4 linked regions of the Homo sapiens genome follow. The protein of the gene in region 3 interacts with the protein of the main gene of each other region in a biochemical or structural test. Each region holds a gene or a part of one and is shown on either strand. Other genes may lie near its edges. The genes, in order: CPSF4, PAPOLA, FIP1L1 and CPSF1.

What was found.
Region 1: the proteins of FIP1L1 (region 3) and CPSF4 form a complex in vitro, tested with the Homo sapiens proteins (one study listed by BioGRID).
Region 2: the proteins of FIP1L1 (region 3) and PAPOLA form a complex in vitro, tested with the Homo sapiens proteins (one study listed by BioGRID).
Region 4: the proteins of FIP1L1 (region 3) and CPSF1 form a complex in vitro, tested with the Homo sapiens proteins (one study listed by BioGRID).

The regions. Positions count from the first base shown.
Region 1 is NC_000007.14:99,441,925-99,448,949, reverse strand, and holds part of CPSF4 (cleavage and polyadenylation specificity factor subunit 4), read right to left. Parts: intron 6,616-7,025; exon of another isoform or gene 6,576-6,615; intron 6,254-6,575; exon of another isoform or gene 5,441-6,253; intron 4,162-5,440; coding exon 4,111-4,161; intron 830-4,110; coding exon 677-829; intron 1-676. UniProt on the Homo sapiens protein: Component of the cleavage and polyadenylation specificity factor (CPSF) complex that play a key role in pre-mRNA 3'-end formation, recognizing the AAUAAA signal sequence and interacting with poly(A) polymerase and other factors to bring about cleavage and poly(A) addition.
Region 2 is NC_000014.9:96,526,369-96,533,393, reverse strand, and holds part of PAPOLA (poly(A) polymerase alpha), read right to left. Parts: intron 5,965-7,025; coding exon 5,855-5,964; intron 5,442-5,854; coding exon 5,388-5,441; intron 1,920-5,387; coding exon 1,808-1,919; coding exon of another isoform or gene 1,698-1,807; exon of another isoform or gene 1,064-1,697; coding exon 974-1,063; exon of another isoform or gene 884-973; coding exon 745-883; coding exon of another isoform or gene 723-744; exon of another isoform or gene 1-722. UniProt on the Homo sapiens protein: Polymerase that creates the 3'-poly(A) tail of mRNA's. Also required for the endoribonucleolytic cleavage reaction at some polyadenylation sites.
Region 3 is NC_000004.12:53,380,641-53,387,665, forward strand, and holds part of FIP1L1 (pre-mRNA 3'-end-processing factor FIP1), read left to right. Parts: intron 1-1,637; coding exon 1,638-1,695; intron 1,696-3,132; coding exon 3,133-3,236; intron 3,237-7,025.
Region 4 is NC_000008.11:144,399,328-144,406,352, reverse strand, and holds part of CPSF1 (cleavage and polyadenylation specificity factor subunit 1), read left to right. Parts: intron 1-519; exon of another isoform or gene 520-523; intron 524-1,057; exon of another isoform or gene 1,058-1,188; intron 1,189-3,362; exon of another isoform or gene 3,363-3,486; intron 3,487-4,238; exon of another isoform or gene 4,239-4,438; intron 4,439-4,679; coding exon 4,680-4,707; intron 4,708-4,789; coding exon 4,790-4,923; intron 4,924-5,061; coding exon 5,062-5,142; intron 5,143-5,277; coding exon 5,278-5,429; intron 5,430-5,535; coding exon 5,536-5,682; intron 5,683-5,859; coding exon 5,860-5,999; intron 6,000-6,007; exon of another isoform or gene 6,008-6,076; coding exon 6,077-6,187; exon of another isoform or gene 6,188-6,267; coding exon 6,268-6,361; intron 6,362-6,484; coding exon 6,485-6,572; intron 6,573-6,642; coding exon 6,643-6,765; intron 6,766-6,849; coding exon 6,850-6,901; intron 6,902-6,979; coding exon 6,980-7,025. UniProt on the Homo sapiens protein: Component of the cleavage and polyadenylation specificity factor (CPSF) complex that plays a key role in pre-mRNA 3'-end formation, recognizing the AAUAAA signal sequence and interacting with poly(A) polymerase and other factors to bring about cleavage and poly(A) addition.

The sequences.
Region 1 (7,025 bases), on a different chromosome or scaffold from region 3:
AGGCCACTCAGGACAGCTGAGGCCACGCATTCTCTAAGCAGGGCTCAAGGCAAGTTTGTTGCTACCAGAAGACACATCTGAGGCTGTTATTTTGAAGGGCTATTTAGGATGGCTGAGATGTCACCAGGATCATGGCTCCTGGAGAGAAGGAACCAGCTCGGGCCTGAGAGGCAATGCCCACGCTGGAGGGAGAAGTGGGTTTCAGGGAGAAGGTGGACGTGGACAGAAACCAACCACGGACATAATGCAGCCAGCTGCACAACTCGCTGCTTCCGGGTCACCCTCGTTAGCCTCAAATCCGAGTGATTGAAAGAGCTCCAAACACTGAAGCACTCCAAAGTGATGCGCGGGGCCAGGCGTGGTGGCTCACGCCTGTAATCCCAGCACTTTGGGAGGCTGAGGCAGGCAGATCACTCGAGCCCAGGAGTTCAAGACCAGTATGTGAAACATAGCGAGACCCTATGTCTTTAAAAAAAAAAAAAAAAAAAAAGAGATGAGCAGAAAATAGCCACACTGTCCCCTAAAAGCTGGCTGAGGCTGGCAGGTTCTGCCAGAGTTCTCCTCTGAGAATAGAAAGATGGGAAAAGCAGGCAGAGACAGTGTGGGCACTGAGCAGCCAGCGGACCCCTCTGCACCCTGGTTCTCAGCAGAGCCTCCAGGGCTCCAGGCGCCTTACCGAACTTGGAGTAGAAGTAGCACTCGGGCATCTTGGTCATGTCATACTCATGCAGGAACTCACACTGGTCCCCTTTCTTGCATAGGCCACGCAGCCAGTGTTTGCACACAACTGTCTTCTCACCACTGATGTGGCGAAACGGACACATGCCCCCTGCCGGCAAGATAGGGACAGGGTGTCAGCAGAGAGGCCACCCTGAGCCTGGGGGACACGGCCTGAAGAAGCTGAGGTACCTTCACTTCCTAACTCCTGGAGCCACCTGAAGGCATCACGTCCTGGAAAGGGGCAGAGGTCCCCCTCACAGAAGGCAACATGATTTGAGGTACTACACTGACAGACATTTTACATTTTAATAGTTACTCATGGCCGGGCGCAGTGGATCACGCTGGTAATCCCAGCACTTTGGAAGGCCGAGGTGGGCGGATCACAAGGTCAGGAGATCGAGACCATCCTGGCTGGCACGGAGACCATCCTGGCTGTCACGGTGAAATCCTGTCTCTTCTAAAAATACAAAAAATTAGCCGCGCATGGTGGCTGGCGCCTATAGTCCCAGCTACTCGGGAGGCTGAGGCAGGACAACAGCGTGAACCCGGGAGGCGGAGCTTGCAGTGAGCAGAGATCGCGCCACTGCACACCAGCCTGGGCAACAGAGCAAGACACCTTTTCAAAAAAAAAAAAAAAAAAGTTACTCATGATCTCACAGATATTACTGTAAGATGGAGGAATTAAAAGGGGGGAGGTGCTGGGAGGCTGAGGTGGGTAGATCACGAGGTCAGGAGTTCGAGACCAGCCTGGCTGACATGGTGAAACCCCATCTCTACTAAAAGTACAAAAAAAATTAGCCCGGCTTGCGGGTGGGTGCCTGTAATCCCAGCTACTTGGGAGGCTGAGGCTGGAGAATCGCTTGAACCCAGGAGGCGGAGGTTGCAGTGACCGGAGATCACGCCATTGCACTCCAGCCTGGATGACAAGAACAAAACTCTGTCTCAAAAAAAAAAAAAAGAAAAAAAAAAAGAAAGGAACTTGGCCGGGTGTAGGAGCTCAAATCTATGATCCTAGCACTTTGGAAGGCCAAGACAGGAGAATCACTTGAGCCAAGAAGTTCGAGATCAGCCTGAGATCTTGTCTTCACTACATAAATAAATAAGTAAGTAAGTAAGTAAGCCAGCCAAGCAAGCTTGGGGACCAGGCACAGTGGCTCACACCTGCAATCGCAGTAGTTTGGGAGGCCAAGGCAGGTGCATCACCTGAGGTCAGGAGTTCGAGACCAGCCTGGCCAACATAATGAAACCCTGTCTCTACTAAAAATACAAAAAATTAGCTGGGCGTGGTGGTGTGCACCTGTAATCCCAGCTACTCAGGAGGCTGAGGCAGGAGAATTGCTTGAACCCAGGAGGCAGAAGTTGCAGTGAACCAAGATGACACCACTGCACTCCAGCCTGGGCAACAAGAGCAAAACTCCGTTAAAAAAAAAAAAAAAAAAAAAAAAAAAAAAAAAAAAAGCTGGGTATGGTGGTGTACACCTGTAGTCCTGGCTACTGAGGAGGCTGAGGTGGGAGGATCACTTGGGCCCAGGAGGTCAAGCTTGCAGTCAGCTATGACTGTGCCACTGCACTCCAGCCTGGGTGACAGAGTAAGATGCTGCCTCTTTTTTAAAAAAAAAAAAAAAGGAAAGACCAATTTCAGAATTGAGGAAATGTGATGTATACACATGGAGGGACGTGTCCCTTCTGGGACAGGACCTGATGGGACAGAGCCAGCCTCTGGGGATGTGTGAGACTTCTAACGGGTGGCCTGGCAAGACCACCATGGAGGTCCGACCAGAATGAGGCCGCTGTACACTTCTGCTGTCCAATATGGCAGCTGCTAGCCCCATGTGACTACTGAGCACTTGAAATATGACTAGTGTGTCTGAGAATTTTGTTTTAAATGTGATTTGATTTTACTTAAATTTGAACTGCCACATGTGACTAGTGGCTACTGTATTAGTCAACAGAGAGACAGAATGCCCTGTGTTAGGGATGGCTGTGCTAACAGAAGGTGGCTGGTCAGAAGGGCAGAATTACTGAGCAAAGACATGGGAATGAGACCAGAAACTCAGTGGAGGTAATGACGTTCTGACTGGACAGTGTGAAGGTGGCCTGGCTGATCTGCCAGAAAGTCTCCTACCTCAGTGGTAAATGACTACGTTATAGAAGCAAAACTCACCAAAACCATTCATTAAAACCAGCCCTTTGCTCTGATTCTCTGCTCTCTTTTTCAAGCTTCTGATTAATATTTAAGTCTCCTAAATAAATTTTCCTACAGGGAGAAAAATGCCCAGACCATGGAAAGTTTAGGTTGTACCTAGTGATACTTCTTTCTTTCTTTTTTTTTTGTTTTGTTTTGTTAAGACAGAGTCTCACTCTGTTACCTAGGCTGGAGTGCAGTGGTGCGATCTTGGCTCACTACAACCTCTGCCTAACAGGTTCAAGTGATTCTCCTGCCTCAGCCTCCCCAGTAGCTGGGATTACAGACGGGCGTCACCATGCCCAGCTAATTTTTGAATTTTTAGTAGAGACGATGTTTCACCATGTTGGCCAGGCTGGTCTCAAACTCCTGACCTCAGGTGATCCATCCACCTCGGCCTCCCAAAGTGCTGGGATTACAGGCGTAAGCCACCACGCCTGACCCCTAGTGATACTTCTGATGGATTAGCCCGGCCCACATACAATTATTAAAAGAGCACAGCCAGAGGGGTAACAAGATGGCGACCAAGACAGTGGAGCTCCATAAGCTGAAGCTTGCTGAACTAAAGTAAGAATGAATGTCTTGCTCGTGGTTTGGAGACGAGCAAATAAAGCAAGATTTTTTTTTTTTTTGAGATAGAGTCTTGCTCTGTTGCCAGGCTGGAGTGCAATGGCACGATCTCGGCTCACTGCAACCTCTGACTCCCTGGTTCAAGGGATTCTCGCACCTCAGTAGTTTTGTGTAGTCTGTGTTGAGGGCTGGTTATCGAGAACAAGACCCCGCAAGATGGGTTATCATGGGGTGTTTCGATGGGAGGCCACAGAAAACCATGAGCCAGTGGAAACTATGGAATGAGAAAGACCTGGGTTCAGACACTGGGCTCTGCCGCTTATTAACTCTGTGACATTGAGAAAGTTCCTGAGTGTCTCAATGCTGGGGGCTTCTCTCCATGTCACAGGTCAGCTTGTGGCCACGGGGAATGCGAAGTGATAAGGCAGCCTTAGAGCCAGGTTCAGTCCTGCGTTTAGGTTTCAGGTGGAACACCCCATCAGGGTCCTAGCCTGTCCAAACCAGTTTTATCTACAGAGATCGTTAGTCTGTAGAAAGCAATGTAAGCCAGAGACCTGGCGGCCTCCAAGTCTGCCGGGGAGAAGGAGGTGGGAGGGCGCCTCCGGAGGCACATCAGGGAGCCCGGAGTTTCTTACCTTTGCCGCAGGCAGCTTTCAAAAAGAATTCACAGACAGCAGCGCCCGACTCTGTAGAAAGGAGAGAAAAGGAGAGGAATCAAAGAGGTGCAATTTGCTATTGACAATGTCTGAAGACAGTGGGAGGGAACCCTTCTGACCTCTGACCCACCAAGGGTTCAGGGTACAGGAAATAAAGTAGCAAAAATTTGCAAAGCCCAACCAAGCAAGGAAGAAGCTGCTTAAGTTAGTCACGCCCTACAAAATGAGACACATACATTGAGAACAGTCATTACCCAGTGCTTTGAGAGCCTCCTGTATATAAGATCCTTTCAAGGAGTTAAGAGTGGGTGGGGAAAGGAAGGCTGGAGTACGAGATCACAGAAATAATTTTTTTTTTTTTGAGATGGGGTTTCGCTCTAGTTGCCTGGGCTGGAGTGCAATGACGCGATCTTGGCTCACTGCAATCTCTGCCTCCCAGGTTCAAGCAATTCTCTTGCCTCAGCCTCCCAAGTAGCTGGGATTACAGGTGCCTGCCACCACGCTTGGCTAATTTTTGTATTTTTAGTAGAGACGGGGTTTCACCATGTTGGCCAGGCTGGTCTCGAACTCTTGACTTCAGGTGATCCACCCACCTCGGCCTCCCAAAGTGCTGGGATTACAGGCGTTGAGCCAAAGTGCCTGACACACAGGAATAAATTAACGGCCCCTAGCTCACACCTTCCTCCAGGAGGGCGAATTCACAGATACCTTAACATGAGGCAGAGGGAAGGAATGATCTCACAGACGTACAGACAATCAGGGCCTCTGAGGAGGGTCAGGCTTCAAGGAAGAGGCAGTGCCTCTGAGATGCTAGTCCAGGGGGAAGCACATTAAGTGCAGAAACAGAGGACTGCTTTTAATATGCAACATCCGTACACAATTTTTTTTTTCTATTTTTTTGAGACAGAGTCTCGCTCTGTCGCCCAGGCTAGAGTGTGGTGGTGCGATCTTGGCTCACCGTAACCTCTGCCTCCTTGGTTCAAGAGATTCTCCTGCCTCAGCTTCCTGAGTAGCTGGAATTATAGGTGTACCATCATGCCTGCCCAATTTTTTTGTATTTTTAGTAGAGATAGGGTTTTGCCATGTTGGCCAGGCTGGTCCCAAACTACTGGCTTCAAGTGATCCACCTACCTTGGCCTCCCAAAGTGCTGGGATTATAGACGTGAGCCACCACACCTGGCCCACATACAATTATTACAGGCTGGTCTCGAACTCCTGACCTCGTGATCCGCCTGCCTTGGCTTCCCAAAGTGCTAGGATTGAGCCACCGCACCCCACCCCACATACAATTATTAAAAGAGCACACCCGGAGGGGTAACAAGATGGTAACTGAGATGGTGGAGCTCCATAAGCTGAAGCTTGCTAAACTAAAGCAAGAATGTCTTCTTGTGGTTTGGAGACCAAGGGAATAAAGCAAGATCTTATCCACAGACTCCAGGCATATCTTGAAGAACATGCTGAAGAGGAGGCAAATGAAGATGTACTAGGAGATGAAACAGAAGAAGAAAAAAACCCCTTGTCAAATAGGAAGAACCCCCTGAAAAAAACTGTTGATGTGGCAGCAGAGAAGAAAGTGGTGAAAATTACATCTGAAATACCACAGGCTGAGAGAATGCAGAAGAGGGCCGAACAATTCAGTGTACCTGTGAGCTTGGAGAGTAAGAAAGCTGCTCAGGCAGCTAGGTTTGGGATTTCTTCAGTTCCAACAAAAGTCTGTCATCTGAACACACCTATGGTTAACTTGGATAAGCCGAAGGAAAGAGCTCAAAGATTTGGTTTGAATGTCTCTTCAATTTCCAGAAAGTCTGAAGATGATAAGAAACTGAAAAAGAGGAAGGAGCGATTTGGGATTGTCACAAGTTCAGCTGGAACTGGAACCACAGAGGATACAGAGGCAAAGAAGAGGAAAAGAGCAGAGCGCTTTGGCATTGCCTGATGAAAGGTTCTTGATACTTTCTGTTCTCCAGTGTTTTCCACTTCTCTCATTCTTCTTGGTCACATATATACTAAATGCAGTCTTGCCTTGCAATGAGGGAGCAGGTACCCCAGGTAAAACTGTGAACTGCCGCGGCAGTTTGACTTATTGCTGTTTCAGCTTTAAGGTTGTTGTGTTTTTGTTTTTGATTATATTGCTTGTTTTTTGTTTTTTTTTTTTTTTTTTTTGAGACGGAGTCTCGCTGTTGCCCAGGCTGGAGTGCAGTGGTGTGATCTCGGCTCACTGCAGGCTCTGCCCCACCGGGGTTCACACCATTCTCCTGCCTCAGCCTCCCGAGTAGCTGGGACTACAGGCACCCGCCACCTTGCCCAGCTAATTTTTTGTATTTTTAGTAGAGACGGGGTTTCACCGTGTTAGCCAGGATGGTCTCGATCTCCTGACCTCGTGATCCGCCCGCCTCGGCCTCCCAAAGTGCTGGGATTACAGGTGTGAGCCACAACGCCCGGCCGATTATGTTGCTTGTTAATAAAAAAGAAAAGAAAAGAAAAAAAAAGCACAGCCTTTCATTCCCACAGTCGGAGTGTGCTGGAATTCAGTGGGCTCCAGGGACCAGCTGTTCTGATGAGTCCAGGAATTCACCAGCCCCAGCTGCCAGACTAAACTGACCTTGGCATCAGAAACAGTTTCCTCTACAAGTAACCATTTTAGAATTGCTGAAAAACCAATGACAGCATCTCTGAAGCCCACTTAACATGCCTCCCCTTGCTAAATCACAAAAGATTCCTTGGCTTCTTGGAAGCAAGCAGATTTTGCTAGGACACAGCTGAGGTTATAGAACTTATGGCTGTCACAGGGAGGTCACTCCATTTGCATCTCAAAAAGTCTGAAAGTGGCCAGGTGCGGTGACTCACGTCTGTAATCCTAGCACTTTGGGAGGCTGAGGCGGGTGGATCACTTG
Region 2 (7,025 bases), on a different chromosome or scaffold from region 3:
AATTTTTATAAAATTACTAGAAAAGAACATCTCTTTTGCAGAGGGAGGAGCAGGAGTTCATAAGAACAGGAATGGACGATTTATCTTAATTTGATTAAAAACCAAGAACCCTCACCTTTTGGGCCAAGGCAATTAATATAAAATGGCAGTAATCTTTTATTCTACTTTTTCTTAAATCATAGTTGACATATGTGGAAATGAAACGAAGAAACTTAAAAAAATCTGGGTTAATGACTAATCTCAAATTCCTTTTTTGTCCCGAAGCACTTAATGTTAATTTATTCTTTAAAAGCTTCTTATGAAAATTCGTATCTTTAATATTAGGCCAAATAAATGCTGAAAGCAAAAAGAAAAAAAAAACAATCACAAGAAACTAATGGCCTATAGATAGAGAATTAAAAGAGTGAAAGAGGTAGTGTGTACAAGTTTTATCCAAAAGTATAGTAACTGATTTCCCAACCTATCAATAAATTGGATCTTAGCTGCTAAAATTCAGAGTTTATTCAGAGGGTAAGTTTATGCAAGGAAGTACAAATAGAATCTGCCTTACTATCCTGGCCAAACTAGGGAAAAAAAATAGTTTCAGTTTGCCATTTTATACACAATGTGATCTCCAAGGCTGCCTACATGACTACATCATGAACTAAAATTTGAATCTGAAACCAAGCTGAGAAATGTCATAGAAATAAGACTAAACTTCAGTGTCTACAATCAATTTTATTTTAATATAATCTAAACACATACCATTTAGAAAATACCAAGAAAAATTTATGTACAAGAGTTGATGCTATTGCATTTGGATAAAGCTGGCAAGTTCTTGCTACTAGCATAGCCCAGGAAACACCACCGAGGAAACCTAATATATTGGAATAGATGTTGTGGCCTGTTGATAAGGGAAAAGCAAAAAGATAAGTTAGTGTTGAACAAAAGTTTGAACATTTTTAATAAGCTAGCCAACAAATTCTGAACTCACGTTTGGCCCATAGTTTGATAGCTCTCAGAGTTAACCTGAAGTTGTCAATGTTTGGTACTAGATGTAAAATTTCATCGGTTACCCTGCAACCTAATTAATAGGGGTAAAAAAAAACACACACACACACACACACACAAAACAAAACAAAACAAAAAAAAACAACATTAAATCATCAAAAGTTTAATGGTAATGCTTCCAAATTTTCTGAGATTGAAGTTAAAAGTAAACATAAATTTTTATTTGGTAGAACCAGTAAAGCTAATTCAATAAAGAGGGGGAAAAAATCTAAAGCATTTATCTCCTATTGTAAGCACTGACCAAAGAAACCAAAGTAAACTGTAACCTGCCCCAATTTGAACTTCAGATTCACAATTAAAACTTCCCACATATACTGCGGAAGACTTAATCCACTAAAGTTTCCAAGAACTGCTCTTCAAGAGCACAGTAACAAGCTATGCTAATATAAAATTGTACCAAAGTAGTCCTTCTGATCTCAGCAATGCTGAAAGCATTACTAAAGAATAACAGGATCAAAATTAATTTGGGTTAGGCCATGAAACCTAAATCACTAGCAACAGAGTACAAAAGTCAGATGGTCTTTTTAAGTGTCCTGAGTATACCATTAATGACAGAAGAAATACAGTGTATAAAATACTGTAGAGTGAAATAAACTACTACATACTCTTCTGTAGTTTATTAGGCAAAGTTCATTTTATTTAACTCACTACTGTGTTAACAATATAGCTATAAAAAGCTTCAATACAAAACTTGTGTAAAAACAACTAATATCTGACAAAAACTGAAGTACACAAAAGGAAGTAGGCTTTCTCATACCGTTAAGACTTCTTATACATCTTATATCTAAATTTTTTAGCAGACTGTCATCTCGTAGATCCAAATCTTCAGGAATTGTCTGCAGTGCTAATCTTGCAAACAAAATATCAATCTGAAACACAAACAAAACAACATTCCATATCTGTCAAACTACTTTTAAGGCATTTCTATGAAAAAACAAACAAACAAAAAATCCCAGCACTCTGGGAGGCTGAGGCAGGTGGAACACTTGAGCAAGACCAGCCTGGGCAACATGGCGAAACCCTGTCTCTATAAAAAAAATACAGGTCTGGCACAGTGGCTCGCACCTGTAATCCCAGCACTTTGGGAGGCCTGGGCAGGCGGATCACGAGGTCAGGAGATCGAGACCATCCTGGCTAACACGGTGAACCCCGTCTCTATTAAAAATACAAAAAAATTAGCCGGGCATGGTGGTGGGCACCTGTAGTCCCAGTTACTGGGGAGGCTGAGGCAGGAGAATGGTGTGAACCCAGGAGGCAGAACTGCAGTGAGCCGAGACCGCACCACTGCACTACAGCCTGGGTGACAGAGCAACACTCCGTCTCAAAAACAAAAACTACAAAAAAATTAGCCAGGTGTAGTGGCACACACCTGTGGTCTCAGCTATGGACCTCCCATGCACCTGTGGGAGGCTGAGGCAGAAAAATCATTTGAGCCTGGAAGGCGGAGGTTGCGGTAAGTCAAAACCATGCCACCGCACTCCAGCCTGGGTGACAGGAGTAAAACCCTGACTCAAAACAGCAAAACAAAAACCTAATTTTCCTTAAAGCCAGGATCCTTTCATTATCTATGAACACGACAATGTCCCTCCAAAAGTCCAAACTATATTATTTCGTATCATAGGTATTTTAATTAGATAATTTTAAAACATGGCAATATAGGCTGGGGGTAGTGGCTCCCGCCGGTAGTCCCAGCACTTTGGGAGCCAAGGCAGGAAGACTGCTTGAGGCTGTCTTCGAGATCAGCCTGGACAACATAGTGAGACTCCATCTCTACAAAAAAAATTAAAAATTAGCCAGGCATGGTGACAAGCGCCTGTAGTCCCACCTACTTGGGGGGGCTGAGGTAGGAGGATCCCTTGAGCCCAGGAGGTTGAGGCTACAGTGAACTGTGATTGCAACACTGCCTCTAGCCTGGGTAAAGTAAGACCCTGCCTCAGAAAAAAAAAAAAGAAAAAAAAAAACAAACAAACATGGCAATATTTTTAAAACAGAAATGGAAATGTACAAATACCTGGTTGTCAGTTTAATCACAATTATCAAGTTTGATGTATTAAGTTTGTTAAATGCATCTACTGGATATAGTAAGTCTAGTAAATACATATGCTGAATTAAAGTTAACTGTTTAGCTCTTCATCTATATGAATTATAAATTGATTACATACTAAAAAGTACCCAAATTTAGGCAAATAGCCTTATATTCAGCCAAAAATACCTCTCAATAAGGGGAGATCTCATTATACATGAGAACTTAATAGTACTCAAATATAAGGCAAACATCCTTACATTTAGCCAAAAATAATTCTCAATAAAGAGATTCCATTATATCTGAGAACTTTTATGTCTGTAATACTACAGTATGTTTTTCCAACTGAGTTTTAAGTAAAACAAAAACACTGGGGAAAGTACAGCCTAAAACAACCACAGTTAAGGCTAATTTTGAAGACATAGAATTCCGCTGACAAAATTGTTTCTTTTCTAAAGGAAAGGTGAGAGTGCAAAGAAACAGCACAGCTTTGGTAGTTATCCCTGAGGGTATGATTTCATGGTTCCAAAAATGTGGATGTCGCTGTAAACAAGCCTTTTATAAGATCACTTTTTTTTTGTTTGTTTGTTTTTTTGTTTTAGACAGAGTCTTGCTCTGTCGCCCAGGCTGGAGTGCAGTGGCAGGATCTTGGATCACTGCAACCTCCACTTCCCGGGTTCAAGTGATTCTCCTGCCTCAGTCTCCTAAGTAGCTGGGACTACAGGCACACGCCACCATGCCTGGCTAATTTTTTCTATTTTTAGTACAGACAGGGTTTCAACGTGTTGGCCAGGACGGTCTTGATCTCCTGACCTCGTGATCCACCTACCTTGGCCTCCCAAAGTGCTGGGATTACAGGCATGAGCCACCGTGCCTGGCTACTAGATCACTTTTTAAAAAGCAGTATTTTAGGAGCACATTTTAAAATATCATTTAAACATACCTACAGAAAAAAAATTGTACTGTTACACAAATAAGTACTTGTGGTCTAGGATAAACTGTTCAATGAAAAAGAACAGATTTCAAAGTCTCCCCCAATTTGGACAGAAATAAAGATTATAGGCTCATAAAACTAGGTAACTGAAAAAGCAACTCAGTAATAATACTGACACATTTTTTAAAGGATGGAATTACTTCAAAAAATATTGAAATGTGAAAATGATTACTAAATTTCCTAAAATATTATGTTCCTAAAATATTATTTTTTAATATAGCATGTATAATAGAAAATTAACACATTAAATGTTTTAAGTAGCCATCTAACTTTCCATCTTGATCCTGTAAAGTTTACAAAGTTAGGTCAGGTCTCCTTCCAAAAAAAAGTCCTCTTTGTCAGTAATATTCTTTTTAGGAAAATGAGGCCTCAACTTATACTTTATATTACAGATTATTTTTACGTTTACTTAAAACACTGACAGTAAATCAAAACTACATGAACTTGATAATCCTTTACCAAATTTAACATTTTATGTCTACTTATTAAGGTCAGTCACTTGACTTTTCATAAAATACAGAGTTGAGCGTCTTATGCAGCAACCTTAGATGCAGCCATTTTTTTGCAAAATAGTACAACAGTGAATTATCTTTTTTATTTTTTAAAGAGATTAAGTCTCGCTACATTGCCAGGCTAGATTTAAGCTCCTGGGCTCAAGAGATCCTCCTGTAGCAGCTTCCTGATAGGTGCACATCACTGTGCCCAGCTTCAATAAATTATTTCTCTTACAGTTTCCAAAATGTTACAATCTTCACTTTATTATCTGTGACTTTCCAGTACCATTCTGTACAGCAAAAGTAATGAATTACTAAAGTTGCTTCACTGTCAACTTTATTCTCATCACTTTAATTACACACACCGAAAGCAGCAAGGAGAAATGAACATCATCTCAAGAATTTGAGTCCATAAATCCTCCCCTATCGGAAGATATTTCAGCACTCACACTTTTCTCCCAATTTTTAAATGAAGTCAAAGCAAAGCATTACTTGCAAAAACACATTATGCTACTGCCTTAATGAGACTAAAAGCACACAAAACTGGCATATGGAAAAGCTACCAAAAAAACTTTTTTGTAATAGCATTTCAATCTTAAGGTTTCATTACTTCTGTTTTAGCTCCAAATTTCACTTGGTATTTTTAAAAAGATTTAAAATGGTATATTCTACAAGAATAGGCAGTCACTTCCATTTAAAAGCCTTAATTGTTATTAATATCACAACCAACTCACTAATTATAAACTTTAAACCAAGTTTTTAACCTATATCAATCAAAATTAGTGACAGCACATAGCAAGAACTGTCAATTTGAACTATACCTTACCTCTATCCCATCAAAACAGAGTTTAATAACTGGTACGAATGCCTCTTCAACAGCCTATAAGGAAAGTAAACAAGTTCAGGGTCTCTGAAACTACATTTTAAGCCTCTACTAGTTTTAGTACTTTAGCAAAACACCTGACACAAAAATAGCTAGCTTTAAGACTGGGCTGTTCGATCAGACAGATCAGAAATCAAGGTTCAAATATTTTACTTCACCCACTCATCAGATGTATGATTGTGGCCAGATTATTTCATATTTATTTTGTTTGCCTCAATTTCCTAATCTGTAAATGAGTTTATAATTTTAGGCTTGCTGTAAAGAATAAAACACAAACACATATGCCAAGTGTTTAGAAAGGTTTGGCAAATTGCAAGAACTCAATAAATGATGGCTATATCATAAAATTCACTCAACTGACTAAATGAATGTTCATAACTCATCCCATTTCACCCCGAACATTTACGCACTCTTAAATCTTTTACTTCTTCCTGTAATTTCAACTTATCATAGAATGAGGTGAAAAAGTCACTTCGATCAACATGTCTTGGTGCAACACACAACGCATCAATATCAGCACCTAAAAAAAATTAAGCCCATCAACCACTAATTAATATTACAAGAAAATTATTTTGCATCCTATCATGGTAGTATTTGATGTTGAGAATCTGTTTAACATACTGGTGAGCTTCTAAAAATGTTCCACCCCTTACTTAAAATTACCAGTCAATGGAGGACAAACATGATTTTAATTGATGTGGTATATTTTGATCCTGCAGCATCCTCTATTTATAGTGGCCCAAGTAAACTGGGAGCCCAAAGAAAGATGGCTCAGCAAGTACTTTCATGGTGGAGAGGGAATTATTCAAACATACACCCAACATCTTGATGTCATTAGTCATAGCCATGTTCATTGGTAAAACAAAAATAGTTTTCCTCTATGTACTACGTATTTGGTGCTTATAGGTTCTCTACCAGGCCCCTAAATGGGACCTACAAAATAAACTTCAAGCAGAAGAATCCAAAGAAGTAGACAATGGTAAAATATTTGTCATTAATTCAGTGCTTGATAAGAGGCCAGCACTAAGTACATAGGCAGAATTTTAAAAAGGAGAATTAAAATCAATTGGGGTCATAAAAGGGAGAGATTAATGTGGAATCAGGTCAACAGTCATTTTCCTAAAAGACAAGATGCTGAGGTATGACTCTGAAAGCTATTTATTAGAACAGGAAGAACGGTGTACAGCACACAGGATATATCAAAAGTAATGTACTAATGGGACAGAGTGATGGGAGATGGAGAGAGGAAAGGATACTAGAAAACAGACAACACTATCTCGGCAGATACAGTTCATGGTTAAAGAATACAGCCTCAGCTGGGCGTGGTGGCTCATGCCTGTAATCCCAGCACTCTGGGAGGCCGAGGCAAGTGGATGGCTTGAGCCCAGGAGTTCGAGACCAGCTGGACAACACGGGAAAACCCTGTCTCTACCAAAATAAAATTAAAAAATTAGCCAGGCATGGTGGCGTGTGCCTGTAGTCCCAGCTACTCAGGTGGCTGAGGCCTGAAAATCAATTGAGCCCAGGAGGTGGAAGGTGCAGTAAGCCAAGACTGTGCCACTGCATCCAGCCTGTGCAACA
Region 3 (7,025 bases):
GTTCAGCTTCCTTACCCAAAAAATCCCCTATAGTCTTTTCACTCATTGGTATATTATCTGAAATGTTATTTCATTTTAAAATTTATATATTCAACTCAGTTCCTAATTCTGATCTCAACCACAAAGTTGAGATTAGTTTTAGTTTATGTTATGAAAGTGATTGAATATTTCTTTGTACCCATTCCTTCAGTTGGTCAAGAAATTAATTACAGGTATAGTTTTACAATCAAATATACTTTTCTATATGATAATCTTTATCCCATTAATTTTTATTTTTATTGGTTACAATTTTAAAAGCTTACTTTCTAATCAAACATTCTTTAATTTTAATTCCGCAATACACAACTTGCTAAAATTTATTGGAGGGAACCTTCTACCTTCCCTGAGTGTCACTGTCAACATAGCTTTATATTCCTTTCTGCAACTTCATTTGGGGAGCCGTTGAGTTGATTTCATCCTATGGGGGAAAAAACAATTTCCTTTACAGTGTTATTTTTCTAGAAAAAGCTTAAAATTTTATCATGTTTCTAACATTTTAATGGTGATAGAAAATTAAAACTTCCAAAAGAGTAGGCCTATTGAAGAAAGGTACTCTGCCAGACCTACTGCTATCTGGCTTGGTACATCATTGCATTGCTCTACCAAAGTTCCTGCTATTAGAATTTGCCCGTTTCCTACTGACTGGCTCATTGCTGAAGCCTCTGTTTTTCTTAAACATTGCATTGCAGTCTCCAATTGTGTTATATCTATCCAAGTTTTGACTAAAGAAGGGATACTGTTTTGTGACGTAGAAAGCAAATGGGACTTGCTTCTGGCTACCTAGAAGCTTATTTCAGCAGGAGGTAAATGTACTGAACAATTATAGCTGCATATTTGTTTTCTTGAAGCAAGCAGTAGAACAATGAAAATATAACAGTTATGTTTTGACTTTTTATCTTTCATTTTGCTTTATTTGGTGATTGTGCTATAAAATGCCACTGTAAAGATCAAATTGATTTAGGATAATTAAAATTGATTAAGTTTGTCATATATTTTTAAAATGTGTAAAAAGCTTGAATTATAGCCCACCATCAAATTATAAATCATTAATAAACTGTGAAGGCATTTGCATTCTTTTTTTTTTTTTTTTTTTTTTTTGAGACAGCATCTCACGCTGTCGCCCAGGCTAGAGTGCAGTGGCATGATCACTGCAGCCTCACTGCAACCTCTATCTCCTGGGTTCAAGCAATTGTCTGCTTCAGCCTTCCGAGTAGCTGGGATTACAGGTGCCCGCCACCATGCCTGGCTAATTTTTTTTTTTTTGTATTTTTAGTAGAGACGGGGTTTTACCATCTTGGCCAGGCTGGTCTTGAATTCCTGACCTCGTGATCCACCCACCTCAGCCTCTCAAAGTGCTGGGATTACAGGCATGAGCCTCCACGCCCAGCCTGGCATTTGCATTCTACTTACAATGTTGAGTACTTGTCTTCTGCAAGTTACTAGAAATAACGGAATAAGACAGTCAGATTTTACCATTACTGTCTCCAGTGGAGACAATAATTTTAGGAGCTTTATTAAAGCTTAGAAATACTAATATAATCTATCTGTACTTCCGAAAAGTAATGCCTGACATGTATACTTACTTTTGTTGTTTGTAGTGCTAATCCTCCATCTGGAATTGAAGATGAAACTGCTGAAAATGGTGTACCAAAACCGGTAACATAAGGCTTTGAAATCCAGTTACTGATACAAATCTTTATCAATAGCTTCACAGTTTACATAGAAAGCAAGCTGGCATTTTACATTACCTTCAGTATCAGGTGTTATCTGGCCCTTTCTTACATCTCCTACTTCATCTGGTGCCATCAAAAACATATATAGGAATTAAAATGAGGAAAAGAAATAGTAGAAAGACTGCAGAGGAAAATAGTATGTGCAAAGGCTTGATGTTTATTGCTTTCAAGGAATTGAATGGTTATAAATCTACTGAATATAGTGAGCCTGGTTTTCAGAGCAAGTTTTGAGCCCACAACCTTTCACTGTTACGATTTTTTAACGTTGCTTTTTAATGTATGTGACAGTCCCTGACTGCATGCCTGCATGCCATTGATACTTTGTGAGGTGAACATATCATTGGTCCTATGAATATTTGTGCATTTTAATCCTATAAAAGGAAGGAAGTTATTGTTCCGGAAGTTTGAAGTTGTATACAAAAAAGTATTTTGCCTATGTGATCTACTTATTTACTATGATGTGATTAAGCACAAAATAGCCTTTAAGAGCCAAAGTAAAATCTTCACAAATATAGAATTTGCATGTAGGGCCTCTTCTAGGTATACAAGAATACCAAGAATAACTGAGCTTCTACTTAACTATTTGGTACTTCTTATGCTTTGGGGTTTTTTTTTTTAATTCTTTAATTGATTTGGTACATTGTATTTGTGACACTGTGAATCTTAAAATTGTTTTCCTCTTAGATTCTTTTTTGCCAAGACTTCTCAAATACTTATTTTTTATAATTTTATCTTGTAGGTATCTTAGTAAGTTGCTTTAGATCTTTTTGCAAGAGGGGCAGATATGATAGTTAAAAAAAAAATGAGGTGTTGTTTACCACAAGGAGATGATGCCAAAAAGATTTCATTTCTTTATTCATAGTCTTATCCTTTTTATCCTGTAGAACATCAAAATTATGAGTTGAAATAGGTGGCAGCATTATAAGCTTGTAACTTTTAAATTGTATCTCAAAAAAATACAGAGTGGGGCCGGGCATGGTGGCTCACGCCTGTAATTCCAGCACTTTGGGAGGCCAAGGTGGGTGGATCACCTGAGGTCAGGAGTTCGAGGCCAGCCTGGCCAACATGGTGAAACCCTGTCTCTGCTAAAAATACAAAAATTAGTTGGGCATGGTGGCGGGCACCTGTAATCCTAGCTACTCTAGAGGCTGAGGCCGGAGAATTGCTTGAACCTGGGAGGTGGAGGTTGCAGTGAGCTGAGATCATGCCACTGCACTCAAGCCGGGGCGACAAAGTGAGAGTCTGTCTCAAGACAGAAGAAAGAAAAAAAAAAACAGGGTGGTTACTTTTTTTAGTTATTAGTATTAGATGTTGAAATGGATTACTGAATGTATTTTATAATTTGTTTATGTTCATGTAGAAAGTGACTGAGACCGAAGATGATAGTGATAGTGACAGCGATGATGATGAAGATGATGTTCATGTCACTATAGGAGACATTAAAACGGGAGCACCACAGTATGGGTAAGTTATTTTTTAGTAAGTAACAATTGTGTAAATGCTATATAGTAAGGAGAGTGTGCCTATATCAAACTCTCAGTGGTTGAGTCCATTGTTTTTACATTTTTCTATTTTAACATAAAAGAACTTGTTAAAGTTTCATCATGAATATACTTCTTTGCTAAAATACAGTTAATTGATTAGGCGAAGGTACATAGAAGCAGCAGTTTTTGATGCTGAATTTAAAGTGTTTTTATAAAAGAATTGAGTGCTAGGCCAGGCATAGAGGTTCATGCCTGTAATCCCAGGACTTTGGGAGGCCGAGGCGGGTGAATCACCTGAGGTCAGGAGTTCAAGACCAGCCTGACCAGCATGGTGAAACCTTATCTCTACTAAAAATACAATAATTAGCCAGGCATGGTGGTGGGCACCTGTAATCCCAGCTACTCCAGAGACTAAGGCAGGAGAATCACTTGAACCTGGGAGGTGGAGGTTGCGGTGAACCCAGATCGAGCCACTGTACTCCAGCCTGGGTAACAGAGTGAGACTCTGTCTCGAGAAAAAGAAAAAAAAAAAGTACTATAAATTCTTTGATTAGAATTAGAAATCCTTAAATTGTAATTTGTATCTGTACTTATTATTATTTCACTTTATTATCCAGACCTGAGTTTAGGTTTTTAATTTTTTTGCCTAATAAAAACAATATCAAAAGTATTTCTTTTTGTTCTTAATAGTGTTTTCAGGTTTCTAATTCTCCCTTAGGCCTTTTAGGCCAATGTTTGTCTCCAATTTTGTATTCTATAAACTGGACCAAGTAAATGGACTGTCATTGACTCATTGAGCGCATAAAGAATCTTACAGAAAGATTGGAAGGGAAATACATTGAAGTACGAATTGTGATTTAGTTACGATAGGAGAATAAGAGTCAATGTGTTTTGTTTTTCAAATTGGCTGTATAATGTGGTTATTATAGCTTATGCATTGGAAACATAAAATACATTAATTTCACTATAGTTCATTAAGCAACCTCATCTGGAATCAACCAGTATATACAAAAATATTGTTAAATATTTTATTAGTAGAGTCATTTGTTTTCAGAAGTCATTTCAGGAAGCTTAAAGCCAATTCAGTTATTGTCATAGTCAGTTTTGTATTATAATAATGACTACCCATGTAATTTTAAAATCCTAGCACCTTTTTAGGGAACAGAGTAAAGAGGCTGATTTTTCATGTTAGGGGTGGATATTCTAAATGTGCTCCTCATTCTCATTTGGGAAAGTAAATAATTACTTAATGAGAAAGTTGGGCTTATACTGTAGTACTAGTAGGCCTTTACTATCTGCATGATGCAAAAGGAACACATAAAATTGTAATAATTGCATGTTCATTAAATGTTATGTAAAATTATTTGTATTTGCAAGTTATAGAACAACTTGAAGCAAATGACAATTTTTTTGGATTATGGATGGGACCTTTTTTTGGTAGAAATTGCACTCAAATATTAAATATACGTGGACTTCCATAGTACCTTACTAAACTTTATTTCTTATAGCAATTTTCAGTTTTATGCATTGTAATTATGTTTATACATATTTATTACCTTTACACACTTCAGATTTCTATAGAGTAGAAACCATTGAATTCAAAACTCTTCAAAAAAACAAGAAACTGTGATTTATGGAGTTTTCTATTCCTCACATTGCCTTAAATACAGTTAAGTGTGCAGTAAATGGTTATTGACTAAATAAACTGAATGTTATTTAGTTACAGTTGTCTCTGAGGGTTTTTCCCCTTAGACATTTGATTATGAAAATTTTCAAATGCTCACAAAAGTTGAAGGAATTGACATGTGAATGCTCATTTACCCATCACCTAGATTATACAATCTACATTTTGCTTTGTTTGCTTGAACTCATATCCCTCTATGCGTTTACCCATTTATCAGTTGATTTATTTTTTATTCATTTTATGCATTTCGAAAGTAAAGTACAGGCATTTGTGAAGAGTGTAAAGTTGTTTAACCTCTATATTTCAAGGTATATCCCTTGAAAACAAAGTCAGTGAGAAAATGAAATTTGATAAACATTTACTTATGCACAGCGTTTTCAGAAGCAAATTTAAAGAACAAACTGTGTCCAAGGACTGAATTGATTTATTGTAAATTGTTAGGAAATACAAAATAGCATTTTTTTTTTTTTTTTGCGTAACATACCTTTGTTACAAGTTCATTTTATATGTAAGTAAGGTATGAAGAAAAGCAACTCTTAAAGTAGAAATAATTTATCTTGGAAAGTAGTTTGTTACCTATCTCTGTGAGATTGATCCATTTATGTACTCAATAAATAATTTTTAAAGACATAATTTATCTGGCACTGTGTTAAGTAGCAAAGATAATGTGCCTTTATCAAACCATCTGTGATCATTCCATTATTATTATTGTTTTTACATTTACCATGCTACAAAAGAACCCTTGGTAAAATCACCATGAAATTTCATGGAGTTAACAAATTAGATAAAGTTACATGAAAGCAGCAATTTTTTATCTGTGAATGTATTAATTGATGAGAATACAGGAAGTTATTATTTTCCAGAGGTAGTGAGGATGCCAGACATGTGAGTAAATATTTTCAGTGCAACATAAGTGCTAGAATAGAAACATGTACAAAGTGATTCGAAAGGTTTGAGAGGAGAGTTGCTAAAAGCCTACAGGTGTTGAAGAGAAGATCCCAGAGGTAACATTTGAACTTGTTTGAATAATTTTTGAGATGGGAGACAGTGGTTTTTAGGTGGAGGACACTGCCTAACAATAAATATATTAGATGCGTGCCTTGGAGGAAGTACATGGCTGGAGGATAAGGTAGATGAAAAGAGATGGTTGAAATCACTTATGGAAGGAGTTAGGATGCTTTTGCTATGTCTTTGTAGACCTTGCAAGCTTGTCCAATGCACCTTATTTTGTTGCTGTTGTTGTTCTGTTTTGCTTTGTTTTAGTCTTTTAGCTGCCCAAAGCCATGGTTTTTAGTTTCTGTCTCCAGTGATAAGTGGAAAAGAGGGGTGATAAAGGGGCTTTACTGGCCTAACCAGAAACAGAAACTAAGGACTCATGACTGTATTCTCTCCCTTAGACACCCCTAATTAGGTTTTTAGACAGGTCATATCATTTGAAAAGATAACTCTAGCATCAGTAGTTGAGATGGGTTAGATAGAGAGACATTGACTAATAGATGTGAAGTAGTTGTCCAGGTGAGATGATAATCTAGACTAAGGCAGCAGTAGTAGAGAGATGAATGGGAAAATAGTACATTTGAGTATTAGAGAAACAGAAATATAGTCAGGCATGTGGTATACACCTGTAGTCCCATGGACTTGGGAGGCTGAGGTAGGAGGATTGCTTGAGCCTTGGAGTTTCAGGCCAGCCTGGGCAATATAGTAAGATCCTGTCTCAAAGAATAAATAGAAACAAATAACATGGGTAACTGGTTGGTTGTGGATGGAGGAGGAGATAAAGGGCTCAGTGACTTAAAGATTTCTAGAGCAGTTAATTGGGTACAGGTGGGTGCTACTGCTCCCACCTCCCACAAAACAGATTCATTTGACATGTTTATTTTGGAGTTCCTATAGAAAGTCCAAGTATAGGATCTAGCATTTAGAGTGGTCTGAGACTTCATAGGGATCTATTGGACATTATATCAAATTTGCCTCTGCAATTTTTCATACCACTAAGCTTCTCTACACAGGCTTCTCTACAAAGGCTTGTGGCTTAAAAAAGAAAAATGATGTTTTAAAAGGCAGAATGGGGAATAGAAAGTAGCT
Region 4 (7,025 bases), on a different chromosome or scaffold from region 3:
GACTGACAGGGCAGTCTGGTGGGCACGAGGGGTTGTGGTCTGAATGGAGCAGGGGTAAGAGCCCAGCAGGGGAGGAGAGTCAGTAACAGTGAACACAGACAACTCTGGAGGAGATGTGCGTAAACTGAAGCAAGAAATGGAGCCATAAATAGCAGGAAAAGAGGTTTTCTTCTTCTGTTTTGTTTTTTGTTTTTAAGAAACGGGGTCTTGCTATGTTGTCCAGGCTGGCCTCGAACTCCTGTGCTCAAGCCATCCTCCTGGGGTCAGTCTAGTCGTGGCTCTGTAACTAACTGCCCTGGAATATGCAAACGAGGTCTTTTATCATAATCGCAGACCTGGAAGCCAGGTTTTCAGGGATTCATCAGAGTGTGGGGAGCCCTTGGCTCTCCTCCACCAGGGCAAGCCTTGACAGGGATGACTTGAAGAGCTGGGGACAGGCTAGATGTGTCTTCCCCTACCCCCACACCGTCCCTCCACTCTCCCCTGTCCCCAGCATGGCTAGCTTGGTTTTCCTGGCAGCATGGTGGTGTTGGTGTAGTTGAGCTTCTTGCAGGAACTCAGAGCCCTAGGAGGCTAAGGCAGAAGCTGCCAGTCACTTTAAGGGCTAGACCAGGAGGGCACCGTCCCTGCCACCACAGTCTGCCCTAAAGGCAGCCTCCAGCCCAGATTCACCTGGAGAGGGAGGGAGACAGCCACCTTTCATACAGCTGTCTTTTTTTTTTCTTTTTTGAGAGAGAGTCTCCCTCTGTCACCCAGGATAGAGTGCAACAGTGCGATCTCAGCTCACTGCAACCTCTGCCTCCCGGGTTCAAGCAGTTCTCCTGCCTCAACCTCCCGAGTAGCTGGGATTACAGGCGCCTGCCACCACACCCAGCTAATTTTTTGTATTTTTGGTAGAGATGGGGTTTCACCATGTTGGCCAGGCTGGTCTCGAACTCCTGACCTCAAGTGATCCACCCGCCTTGGCCTTCCAAAGTGCTGGGATTACAGGTGTGAGCCACGGAGCCCGGCCAAGACATTCCCAGGTGTTTAGATGAGACATTTGTATTTTTGACAGGAACACCACAGAAGAGGCAAACAGCAGCCCCATCAGCTTTCAGGAGGCGGCGGAGGCCTTTGCCTCATGACTGGATGCTGATGCTTTGATGCTTGGTTGGGTAGTGTTGGCCTGGATTCCCCCACTGTAAGGTTATTTCTTCCTTTTGTAACTAAAAGTATCTTGTAGGGACTTATTTTGAAACCCTGTAAACGTCCTCTTATTCAGATTTTCAAGGTTTTTTTTTCTTTCTTTCTTTCTCTTTTTTTTTTTAGACGGAGTCTCGCTCTATCACCCAGGCTGGAGTGCAGTGGCACAATCTCGGCTCACTGCAAGCTCCACCTCCTGGGTTCAAGCGATTCCCCTGCCTCAGCCTCCTGAGTAGCTGGGACTACAGGCGCCCGACTAATGTTTTTGTATTTTTAGTAGAGACGGGGTTTCACCGTGTTAGCCAGGATGGTCTCGATCGCCTGACCCCGTGATCCGCTTGCCTCAGCCTCCCAAAGTGCTGGGATTACAGGCGTGAGCCACCACGCCCAGCCTTTGGTCGCTATTTCTTTAGCTATTGATTCTGTCCCCTTTCCCCCAACATGCCAGTTAGACCATTTGACTATGTACACATTTTTCTTAAAATCCTTCTGAGTGGTGGCCGGGCGCAGTGGCTCACGCCTGTAATCCCAGCACTTTGGCAGGCCGAGGTGGGTGGATTGCCTGAGCTCAGGAGTTCAAGACCAGCCTGTCCAAGATGGTGAAACCCCGAGTCTACTAAAATACAAAAAAAAAAAAAATTAGGCGTGGTGGTGGGCGCTTGTAGTCCCAGCTACTCGGTAAGCTGAGGCAGGAGAATGGCTTGAACCTGGGAGGCAGAGCTTGCAGTAAGCCAAGATTGTGCCACTGCACTCTAGCCTGGCGACAGAGCAAGACTCCGTCTCAAAAAAAAAAAAAATTCTTCTGAGTGGTTACCCCTGTTTCTTGCATGTACACAGAAGTGCAGTTGATCTCTGTATATTGACCTTATACTTGGCAGAGTGGATCAGGCGTCCTTGGCTGGTCCTGACCAAGAGGGAAAACTTCTTTTTTTGTTTGTTTTTTTGAGACCAAGTCTCTCTCTTGTCCCCCAGGCTGGAGTGCAATGGCATGATCTTGGCTCACTGCAACCTCCGCCTCCCGGATTCAAGCGATTCTCCTGCCTTAGCCTCCTGAGTAGCTGGGACTACAGGCACCTGCCACCACACCCAGCTAATTTTTGTATTTTTAGTAGAGACGGGATTTCACTATGTCACCATGTTGGCTAGACTGGTCTCGAACTCCTTACCTCAGGTGATCCACCCACCTCGGCCTCCCAAAGTGCTGGGATTACAGGCGTGAGCCACTGTGCCCGGCCTCAAAAGGGAAAACTTGTAATGTTTCACTCCCAGCACCACATTGCTGTAGACTTTTTGTAGATACCCTTTATTTGATTAAGGAAGTTGGGCGCGGTGGCTCATGTCTATAATCCTTGCACTTTGGGAGGCCAAGGTGGGTGGATCACCTGAGGTCAGGGGTTCGAGACCATCCTGGCCAACATGGCAAAACCCTATCTATTAAAAATACAAAAATAGCCGGGCATGGTAGCACATGCCTGTAATCCCAGCTACTTGGGAGGCTGAGGCAGGAGAATTGCTTGAACCCAGGAGGCAGAGGTTGCAGGGAGCTGAGATCACACTACTGCCCTCCAGCCTGGGTGACAGAGTGAGACTCTGTCTCAAAATTTAAAAAAATAAATAAATTAGTCAGGTGTGGTGACTCACATGTGGTCCCAGCTACTCAGGAGGCTGAGGTGGGAGGATCACCTAAGCCCAGGAGGTCGAGGCTGCAGTGAAACATGATTGCTCCTCTGCACTCCAACCTGGGAGACAGTGAGGCCCTATGTCAAAAAACAAAGGCCTGGCGTGGTGGCTCATGCCTGTAATCCCAGCGCTTTGAGAGGCCGAGGTGAGTGTATCGCTTGAGGTCAGGGGTTGAAGACCAGCCTGGCCATGGCAAAACCCTGTCTGTACTAAAAATACAAAAATTAGCTGGACGTGGTGGTGGGCGCCTATAATCCCAGCTACTGAGGAGGCTGAGACAGGAGAATCGCTTGAACCTGGAAGGCAGAGGTTGCAGTGAGCCAAAATCACACCATTGCACTCCAGCCTGGGCAACAAAGTGAGACTCCATCTCAAAAAAAAAAAAAAAATTTTCCTCCTATTTTTGCTTTACTAGGAGTTTTTATCACGAATGCCTTTATCAGATGCTTTTTTTGTATCCACTAAAATGACATGATTTTTCTCCTTAATTTTGACAGCATGGTAAGTTTAGCGATGGCTGTTCTTGCGGAAATCTAGTTTTGCGTTCCTGGAATAACTCAACCCAGTTGTGTTACAATACCCCTGCTTGTCACTGGGCTCATCTGCAGGCGTTTTGAGGAGGTTGGTGTCACTTCCTGTCCCACCTGTCTGTGGGCTGTTGGGGTGGCCTGAGCCACCTGCGGTGCCGTCAGCCCCACATGAGTGGGTGTGTGTTTTTTTTTTAAGTGTGTCATTACTTCTGAAACCTTTGGTAGAATTTGCGGGTGAAGCCCTGGAGTTGCCCTTGTCGCTGTGAGATGGGTATTGGTTTGTGGATGCTTCTTCTGTATCTCTTAACCAGCTTCCAAGATGCCCTCCCCATAGCACAAGTCCATCGTGAAAAATGACCTTGAGGTGGCTCACGCCTGTAATCCCAGCACTTTGGGAGGCTAAGGTGGGCGGATCACCTGAGGTCAGGAGTTCGAGACCAGCCTGGCCAACATGGTGAAACCCTGTCTCTACTAAAAATACAAAAATTAGCCGGACATGGTGGCACGCACCTGTAATCCCAGCTACTTGGGAGGCTGAGGCAGAATCACTTGAACCCGGGAGGCAGAGGTTGCAGTGAGCCAAGATCACGCCACTGCACTTCAGCCTGGGTGACAGAGTGAGACTCCGTCTCAAAAACAAAAAACAAAAAACAAAAAAAAACAAAACAAAAACCACTTTTCCCTTGCCTTGAGGCAATGGCATATAAATCTGCTAGCTAGTTAAACTAGCTACCTAGTAGCAAAGAACACACAGCCTCTTATCATTCTGGGAGGGCAGTGAAAAGGGAGGAGATAGAGAGGCAGCCTGGGGGAGCCCGAGGCGTCAGGATAGCGCAGGGCTTCCTCTTCTCTAACAGGCACGCAGATCAGTAGCTACAGATACCCCTTGGCTCTGGCTTCCTGCCCTGTGACATTTGGACCCAGGGGCCGGGGCTGGGCTGCTGTAGGTGTGCAACCAGGCAGGTTTGGGGGTGTGCAGACACAGAGTGCACTCTAACCCTGAGTGCTTGCCGCACAGGGCCTGGCTGCTAGGGAGCCGTGAGGTAGGGGCTTCCTGGGGAGGGGCCTGTGCCAGGGCTGGGCCGTGGGCATGAGAGCGTGAATGGGGGTCGCTGTGGGGGGCTGTGCACAGCTGTCTCCAGAAGCCCTTCTCCCTGCTGCAGAGAGGGTTTGGGCAGAGCTCCCAGGAGGCAGGGGCCAGGCTTGGTGGTCTTTTCTCGTTCCCCGGATGAGGTGAGCTGCCAGATGTGGCCCCTCACTGCCCTGTCTTTCTCTCCCCTCCAGGCTCTGACCAAGAATGACAGGAGCACAGGTGAGTGTGGTGGGGCGGCCTGGGGCTGTGCGGGTGCCAGGCATGGCTGGGCCCTGACCCTGAGCCCTGGTGTCTCCCCTAGAGGGGAAGGCCCACCGGGAGAAGCTCGAGCTTGCTGCCTCCTTCTCCTTCTTTGGCAACGTCATGTCCATGGCCAGCGTGCAGCTGGCAGGAGCCAAGCGGGATGCCCTGCTCCTAAGCTTCAAGGATGCCAAGGTGAGTGGTAGGCTTGGTGGGGTAGGCCTGGCCAAGGCGTGGGAGTGGGTGCCAGGGCCTGGGTACAGCCGTTGGTTGCCGGGGGCGACACTGTCAGGACCGGCAGTCGGCAGCCACGGCTGTGCCCTCTGACCGCAGCTGTCTGTGGTGGAGTACGACCCGGGCACCCATGACCTGAAGACCCTGTCACTGCACTACTTTGAGGAGCCTGAGCTTCGGGTAGGGCCGCGCTCCCGCCCCCGCCCAGGCCCCGCCCAGCCACCCTCCCTCCCCCTGCAGCTGGGTTCTGTGGCCCCAAGTGTTTCCCTCGGGGTCTCCTATGCTGGGCCTGGCTGATGCCCCCTCTGCCCCCAGGACGGGTTTGTGCAGAATGTACACACGCCGCGAGTGCGGGTGGACCCCGACGGGCGCTGTGCAGCCATGCTTGTCTACGGCACGCGGCTGGTGGTCCTGCCCTTCCGCAGGGAGAGCCTGGCTGAGGAGCACGAGGGGCTCGTGGGTGAGGGGTGAGTGCCAGCTGAGGCAGGCTGTGGTGCTGGGGTGGGAGGCGCCAGAGCCCGAGCTCCCCTCCCCGCCTCCCCTCCTCTCCTGCTGAAGCCCCTGGCCCCCCAGGCAGAGGTCCAGCTTCCTGCCCAGCTACATCATCGACGTGCGGGCCCTAGACGAGAAGCTGCTCAACATCATCGACCTGCAGTTCCTGCATGGCTACTACGAGCCTACCCTCCTCATCCTGTTTGAGCCCAACCAGACCTGGCCTGGGTGAGCCCCCTAAGGAGGCCCCTCTGCACTGTGGGCCCCCTAGCTGCCTCTGCCTGGGGTGGGGCCCATGGGGTTTAGGGCGGGGCCTATGGGGTGTGGTGGGGCTTGCTCGGGAGGAGCTGGGCCTGGGTCTCTGCGGGGAGGCAAGGCCCTTGGCTGACCCACTGGCGTCCCCAGGCGCGTGGCCGTGCGGCAGGACACGTGCTCCATTGTGGCCATCTCACTGAACATCACGCAGAAGGTGCACCCCGTCATCTGGTCCCTCACCAGCCTGCCCTTTGACTGCACCCAGGCTCTGGCTGTGCCCAAGCCCATAGGTGTGTGTCCTGGGAGTGGATAGGGGAGTGTGTGGAGAGAGCACTGAGCCTGCCCACCAGCCTGTGTCCACCTCCAGGTGGGGTGGTGGTGTTTGCCGTCAACTCGCTGTTGTACCTGAACCAGAGCGTCCCCCCGTATGGCGTGGCTCTCAACAGCCTCACCACAGGAACCACGGCTTTCCCGCTTCGTGAGTGTGGGGTGGCTGGGGCGGGGGGGGCCCGGGGACGGCTTGGGCCTGCCTAGTCGGCCTGACCACCCACCCCACAGGCACCCAGGAGGGTGTGCGGATCACCCTGGACTGCGCCCAGGCCACCTTCATCTCCTACGACAAGATGGTCATCTCCCTCAAGGGCGGCGAGATGTGAGCCCCTCCCCCGCCCATGAACTCTGCCCACACCGCCCCCCACAAGTCCTGTAGGGTCCCCTGGCCCCCTTCACTCCCCCAGGGTCCCCATCCCCGACTCAGAATTCTCCCTGCCCCCAGCTACGTGCTGACCCTCATCACCGACGGCATGCGCAGTGTCCGAGCGTTCCACTTTGACAAGGCGGCCGCCAGCGTCCTCACCACCAGCGTGAGTTGGGACTAGGGGTTGGGTCTGGGTCCAGACCCGGCCCAGCCATCACACACCTGCCCTCCCTCAGATGGTCACCATGGAGCCCGGGTACCTGTTCCTGGGTTCTCGCCTGGGCAATTCCCTCCTCCTCAAGTACACGGAGAAGCTGCAGGAGCCCCCGGCCAGTGCTGTCCGTGAGGCTGCCGACAAGGTGGGTTTCCTGGGCCCATTGGGCCACCACCCTTCATGTGGGCACTGCTGTGGCATGCCACTCAGTGCCCCTCCTGCCTCACAGGAAGAGCCTCCCTCAAAGAAGAAGCGAGTGGATGCGACGGCCGGCTGGTCAGGTGAGGGCCGGTCCAGGGCTGGTCAGGAGCGGGGCCAGGTGACCCAGGGCTGCGCTCAAGTGGGCTCTCTGTGTGCAGCTGCGGGTAAGTCGGTGCCGCAGGATGAGGTGGACGAGATTGAAGT